Linked DNA regions of Homo sapiens. The protein of the gene in region 1 purifies or fractionates together with the protein of each later gene. This does not show direct contact. Each region holds a gene or a part of one and is shown in the gene's direction. Other genes may lie near its edges.

Region 1 (4,536 bases):
GTCCTGGAGCCAAAACTTTGAACTGGCAACTTTTTCCCTTCTCTGCCAGCCCATGTATATCTTGTCCATAACACTCTCCACTCCAGTTCATTTCTCATTCTCTCCTACCTGTAGAGTGTACTCCAAAGAGAACTTAAACACCATCATGCAGATTAAACACCTCTACCACGAAAAACATTTATGTGTTCCTTTGGAAGTTTCCAACTCCCAGCCCTACTTTACTGGAGTCGTAGAGACCGAATGGAGGACCCCTTTTCAGGTCTTTATTTTTTTCTTAAGCTTAAAGTCAAATGCAGAACCTCACACAGGACTGATGTTTTCCATCAGGCGCTTTCATTCATTCAAAGTGGAAATGCTTTGGGAGTCCTTTCTACTTGCCTGGTTGACACATGACTGACCCAAGTCTCTGCGTAAAAAGCTGTCCACACGCTTCTGATTGGTTTAGTGGAGAAAACGCTCTGACCAGGGTCTACCCAGGTAACAGGATTCTAGCCCGGGCCCTGCACTGAGTAGCCAGCCTTTCTCTAGGCCTTGCTGAACTGTCAAACCGGGGTGCGGCTGGGCTAGATCCCAGAGGGTGGCAGTCCGGTCCCAAGTCCCGGGACCCGAGTCGGGAGGGGCTTCTGTATGTGAGTTTAAACGCGCGGGGATTCACCTGTGAACCCTGGGGTCTGCACTCCTGTACGTCCGTGACTGATGCAGATGCTCCGGCTTTGGGAACGCTGCTGAGAGCGCCAGAGCCACAAGGTGCTTGTGCTGCTGCTGCACCGCCCACGGGGCTCTTGGGCCCATCTGCTTGGGCCAGCGCACCCCCCATCCGTATTGATTTCCGCTGCCCCCAAGGAGCTCCCGGGACTGTGTCCTGCCCCAGCTCGCTCCTGTGGCCTCCCAGTTCCTTTTTCTGTTTCTTTCTTTCCTCCTGGCTGCAATACTCCAGAGAAGGGAAGTGTTTGAAACTGCAACTGAGTGGCGTTGTTGCGCCGGCAGCCGAGCCTCCCAGTCCCCCAACGAGAAAGAGAGAGAGAGAGAGAGAGAGAGAAATTGAGAGAGAGAGAGAGAGAGAGAGAGAGAGAGAGAGAGAAGGGGGGGGAGGTGTGTGTCTGCGTACGAGAGAGCGCTCTGGAGCAAAGCAGCTGGAAAATGCCCAGAAATACTTTCACAGCGGTCAAGCTGGAACCCCCCGCGTGTCCTCCCCCTTCCCGCTCCTCCCGGCCTAGACCCCGCGCCCCCCGCAGGGAGGGTGTGCGCCCCACCTGCCACCGGGCTGCTCCGGGTGGTAGAAAGGGGTGACGGGGGACGGGGGCGGGGGCGGGTGGCGGCGCGGGGGTGAGAACCCGGAGGCGGCGGGGCCCTGGGCCGGGCTGCCCGCGGGACCGCGCGGCCGCCTCCCCCCGCCGCCGCCGCCGCCTCCCCCTCCTCCTCCTCCGCCGCCGCCGCCGGTCGCCTGTCTCCGCGCCGGGCATGCCTCGGGAGCCGGGGCGGCCCGGGCCGCGGGCGCTCTGCGGCGCATGGACGGCGGCGGCGCCGGGCGAGCAGCGGGAGGAGAAGGCGCAGGCGGCGGCGGAAGCGGCGACCCACGGCTGGGAGCACCGGCGGCGCGAGGGGACGGCCGGCCGCCCGCGAGGCTCCGGCCCCACTACTTTTCCGTAGCCTCCCCACCTCAGCAGCACGGCCGCCGCCGCCGCCGCCGCCGCCGCCACGGCCACGGCCACGGCCCCGGCCCCGGCCACCGCCCGCCGGGCAGCCCAGAGCGCCGCGCACGGCCGCACTCTCCCGCCACCCCACGCACACGCACACCCCCGCCCGCCCACGCCCCCCACCCGGGAGGGGGGAGAGAGGCAAAAAGTAAGAGAGGAAAAAAAATAGCAGGAAGATGGCGCCCACCAAGCCCAGCTTTCAGCAGGATCCTTCCAGGCGAGAACGGTAACACTTTTCTGTTTATTGAACCTGCCGCCGGGCCGCTGCTCCCGCCGCCGCCGCCTCCGCCGCCGAGGGCCCCTCTCCGCAGCCCGCCCGCCTCCTGGGCCGCGAGCCCGCGGGGACCTCGTCTGGGCGCAGCGCTCGCCCGGGGCCCCGCGCATTGTCCCCGCGGCGGCTGCGGCAGCGAGAGGCTCTGGCGGCGGCCGGGCTCTCTGAGCAGTCGCACCTCCTCGGCTCGGCGAATAGAGTGACTCACTGACAAAAAAAAAAAAAAAAAGAAGAAAGAAACAGAAAAGAGAAAAAGAAAAAGAAACAAACAGATGCGAAGGCGCTGCCGTGTGACGGGAGCAGCAGCGAGGGTGGGGGGCCGGGGATCCCCGGGGCCGCCGCAGGTCCCCTAGCAGCTGCTCTCGAGGAAGGGAATGAGGCTGGGGAGGGGGAGGGAAGGCGGCGAGCAGGGGGAGGAGGCGAGGAGCAGGAGGAGGAGGCCGGGGGCGGGGAGCGCGGAGCTCGCGCCAGGCCCGGAATGTGTCGCGGAGGGGCCGGCTCCGTCTCCGCGCGAGCAGCTAGGCCGGGCCGAGCCCAGAGGAGCGCGGCCGCCGCCTCCCTGCCTCCCGGGCTGCGCCCTCCGCTCGGCAACTTGTGGGTCTCCCGCTCTGCCCTCCGCTCTCATCTTCCCCTCCTCTCCATACCCCTCCCAAAGGAAAAAGAAAAATAAAGAAGAAAACCCTCAAATCCAAATAAGCAAACAAACAGCGAGATCCAAAATGTGTCAGCAGTTGGAGCATCTATGCCCCGTTAGTTACTGTTTGGGGATCTGTGTTTTAAAAAGTTCCTGGTGAGAATTGCATATCCAAGCAAGGGGCTCAGTCGAGCATGTCTATTTGAAGTTAGTTAAACTAGTACAGCCACAGGGAAAGGGAGTTTGTGTTCAAAATACCCGTAACTGTTCTACGTGAGTAGCATTGATAGATTTTCAGAGTAACTCAGCACCCCCTCCCCATCACCACCAACGTGGTTTTCCCTCCTGCTGTCCACCCAGCCTACTTTCTTTGGAATCCTATTTACTATTAATTGGCAACGTTAATGACATTAATTGCATATAGCATATTGGTTTGAGCAAAGTGGATATCTCTTTCTGTCTCCGAAGAGGAAAGGCGCAGTAGGAAGTATGAAACGTCACCCACTGATTCATGAGGAAAACAAATACAGTAAGATATATGCACCCCCACCCGCAGCAGGCGCGTTGATTTTCCTCACAGGCTTAAGTGAACTTGAAAAGAAGACAAAGGATGTGCTTAGTTGCAAGATTTAATTATTATAACATAGTTTTATTTTTGATGCAACATAATATTTAACCTATAGCTTACATCAGAAGACGATAAGGGGATATTCAGACATCCATTCATTTAAAAGGCTTCTATTGTACTGTTGCTTATTTCTTTCATACGATAGGGAAGGCACAATTGTCAGGATTAAGGAAATACTTTTGTTAAGTAGATACATAATTGACTAATTCTGAACTCTAGATGATTCTGTAAACATCATATATCAGAGAGTAAATCATACATAATCCAGTTTTTAAAGATGTTAAATGTGTATAGCATTAACTATTGCTCCCAAACTGTAGAAAATCTGACAACTCATACAGCTAAAATGAGTATTTACTTCTTAAGAAGTATCAGTGTTTCATGAAGAATTCACACTTTACTCTTGTAGTAGAAAAAATAATTTCTCAGAGCATTGTGCAAGGATTTTAAAAATTATTTTTTATCTAACATGAAGATGAATACTTTTTGAAATCTGAGGTTTATAATTGGTTTTCTTCCCCCTCCCCTCCCCTCCCCTTCCCTCCTCCCTCCCTCCCTTCCCCTCCTCCCTCCTTTCCCCTCCTCCCTCCTTCCCCTCCCCTCCTCCCTCCCTCCCTCCCTCCCTCCCTCCCTCCCTCCTTCCTTCCTTCCTTCCTTCCTTCCTTCCTTCCTTCCTTCTTCCCAGTTCTGTTGTTAATAAATATGTTTACTGGGATGGCCCCAGTAATCTCTCTAGCAAAGGCCTATTCGTGTGCCATTTTAGGAATTTCTCTGAGATAAGAATCTCGGAGATAGAATTAATTTCTAGGGGAAACTTCATAGCCTGTGCATGAGTGCGTTCTTTATCACCTGTCTCCATTTGGCATTCGAAGAAGGTAAATCAAAGTGTGCGATTTGTTATTCTGCTCCACTTGAGAGCTGAACTAAATAACACTTGGTCTGAAATTCTGATTGAAGTTGTAGGAGGATATACTGTATTTAATTTAATGCCCTTTAATAGCATCTTCTTGTTCAGCTTGGATGCTGTCATTTTAAAGGTTGGATCTGAGAAGGTTTAACCTGTATGGAGAAGGAGGAGTAATAACAGCGGGGTGGGGGCAGGAGCACTGTGGAAGATAGGAAGGAAGGAGTTATAAACTAAACCTTTCAAAAGGCAACAACCGCAAACTTGGTCCCTTATCCAAACAGTTGTTTTATGCCCCAAGGGTTCACTTTGTTGTCAGGGTTTTAAATGCTCTTAACACTTTAAGTGTAAACATTACACATGTAAGTTGATTTGGCTTTGTAATGAGAAATGGGAAATCAG
Region 2 (2,926 bases), on another chromosome or scaffold:
ATATTCCAATTTCCATACTATTTCCTCCAATAGACCCTTGTTGCCTTCTCCCTTCACTCAGTAATGAACCTTCACAGTCGCTTACCAAACAAAAAGCTTTCTCTCCAACCTGGAGGCTGGTTCTGATGGAAGCAGTAAAGATGTATTCCCAGCAGCCCCAGGAGTGAGCGCTGCTAACTCATGGTGACATTTGGGAAAAAAATATTTATAGAAAATCCAGCAAGCTCTTGTGTAGTAGCCGCCAAGGGGCACGCTGGGAGTTCTGGCTGTTTTTCATTCATCAGGAATGAAGGCCCCATGAGGTTCCCTGGGCCTGCTTTCCAGGCCCCAGGCTGAGCTCTAAATGTAGCTCAGGGCAGTGTGGTCAGCAAAGCTTCCAGACCACAACCCCCCACCCCACTTCCCTTGTAAGTGTTGGTCACGTACTTGCTTCCCCAGACGTGGAGGAAGGAGTGCCTGGCACCTGGAAGCACTCGGGAAACACTTGTGGCAGCCATGAATGACAGCATCTAATGAACTCGCTGAAACACAGCTGTGGAGCCTGGCGGACACCCCTCCCAGGTGTGTGTGCATGTTAAGAGCTTAATCTGGATTTCTGGCCAAAAAGCCAACAGCCAGCAATTCAAGGGCTGGGCATGTGAGGTTAACCTCCAACCGATTATTCTCCAGCCCTCCTCCGGCCAGGCCTGGGCAGGGGTCTACCCAACCAGCGGGGAGGTGAGCACACCTGGCCTTAGGTAGAGCTTATAACCTGGCAACTGCATGAAAGCCCTGGCCCAGCAGCTTGGCAGCAATGGATCCTGCCCTCAGCAGAGGGTGCACTAAGACATGTGGCTGAGAAGGACGTGAGCCAGGGGGTTCCTTCTGTGGGCAGCTCCAGGCCAAGTGTGGATCTCTCTGTGAAGGGACACAGTGTATCTTTGCCTGATCTGAGCTTTCCCCCATGGTGCATGACCCTGACTGAAGGTCATTAAACCCACATCCACAGCGTTCTGAGCAGCTGCTCCCAGCTGAGTGTGGGCATCACCTTTATGGACATAAGATAACTTCCCCAATATGACAAGCAGACTGGGCAGTCTGTGCTGGCCATGGGAATCCATGACAGTTGTGCAATGTCAGGGAGGGATGCTTTACTTTCTACCAACTGGACACCAGCCAGATAATCAGTCTGTGATTTCAAGAGGTGGTGTTTTCATGAGGACAGAGGATAGACTACAATGATCCCTGCTGCTCCTTCAGATGCATTGAGAGATGAATCACCTCCTATGACTCCTTTTCTGCCCACACTCGCTTTGGTTTACTCTGGCAGAAGAAGAACACCGACATTGATCCTGATGTCTACTGAGACCTTGCAGTGTGCCAGGACTGTGACAAGCATTTTTTCCATGAATTATTTCACTGAATCCTCATCTCACCCCATGAGATGGGATTTGAGGCTCACTGAGGTTAGTAACTTATCTACAGATGCCCAGGAAGGAAGGGACAGAGATAGGGCTTGAACCCTAACCAGTCTGGCTCCACAGGCCCTGCTCCCAACCCCTTCACAACAAAGCCCCTCCAGTCCTTTCCCCTTGGCCTGTTGCAAGGACAGTGATGGTCATCAGTATCATCCCTGGGGGAGAGTGACTTCTGAGGGTTTGGCTGTTTGCATGTATAAGACACGAAACCATCTTAGCAAACCCCTCTCCCACCCCAACCCCTTGCTATCACTGCCATGTCAGCCAAGGGGAGACTATGTAGAATAATAGTAGCCATTTAGCCAAATTCCTCAAAGCACAGGCTTAGGTTATTAAATCCTGAACATATCCCTGTGGGGTAGGTGTCTGCTATGATCTGAACATTGTGTTCCCCCAAAATCCTCCTGTTGAAACATAATCCTCAGTGTGACAGTATAGAGGTAGGGCCTTTAGGAGGTGATTAATTAGGTCATGAGGGTGGAGACCTCATGAATAGGATTGGCTCTCTTATAAAAGAGACTTGGGGAAGCTTGTTCACCCCTTCCTCCATGTGAGGACACATAGAAGGCATCATCTGTGAGGAATGGGCCCTCACTCAACACCAAATCTGTTGGCACCTCGACCATGGATTTCCCAGCGTCCAGAACTGTGAGCAATAAATTTCTGTTGTTTATAAATTACTCAGTCTAAGATATTTTATTATATCAGCCTGAATAGACTAACACAGTACAAGTGTTATCCTTATATTACTGATGAGGAAACTGAGGCATCAAGAAAGTAACTTGACCAAGGTTAGCCACTGGTGAGATTTGAATCCAGGCAGGTTGACTCTAAAAAGTGTGCTCCTCCAGGAGTATGAGACCAGCCTGGGCAACAAAGTGAGACCTCGTCACTACAGAAATACATACAATAAAAATAAAACATGTGCTGTTAAATTCCATGCAACACTGCTAGAAATGCAATCCTCCTGGTGAGAAAGAGCAGTGCCTGTGTTGTAAAGCCTGAGTACTGGTCTGGGTAGACTCAGTTATGCTGCAGTAACAAAAGACCCCAGACCACACTGGCTTATTTCTTGCTTATGTGACACATCCATCACAGGTGAGCTGTGACTGTGCTTATCCTCTTCACTCTGTGACCCAGCGGAGCAGAGCAGTCTCTGCCAGGAACATCATGTTTTGTGGTAGAGGGCAGGCAGACATGGCAATCGGAAGTGATACATGCTACTTTCATCCACATTTCATGGGCAAAACAAATTGCCTGGCTGCTCCTGAGTTCAACAGTGTGGGTAGTGGTGGTGGTATATACCCTACTCCACAGGGAGGGCCACCATAAGGCACAAGGACCAAGCTTATTCCAGCAGGAGTTGTATAAGCTTCCTCTTTGGAGGGGCAGCAAATATTTTGAACAATACAACAACCTACTATAGCCTGGGTTGGGATCTTCATTCTGCCACTGAGTGGCTGTGTGAT

The links.
Region 2: the proteins of NPAS3 (region 1) and ABCC12 purify together in Homo sapiens (affinity purification with mass spectrometry; one large-scale study listed by BioGRID and IntAct). This does not show direct contact.

The regions. Positions count from the first base shown.
Region 1 is NC_000014.9:32,937,444-32,941,979, forward strand, and holds the start of NPAS3 (neuronal PAS domain-containing protein 3), read left to right. Parts: upstream 1-1,435; 5' UTR 1,436-1,873; coding exon 1,874-1,923; intron 1,924-4,536.
Region 2 is NC_000016.10:48,080,093-48,083,018, reverse strand, and holds the end of ABCC12 (ATP-binding cassette sub-family C member 12), read left to right. Parts: 3' UTR 1-2,137; downstream 2,138-2,926. UniProt on the Homo sapiens protein: Probable transporter, its substrate specificity is unknown.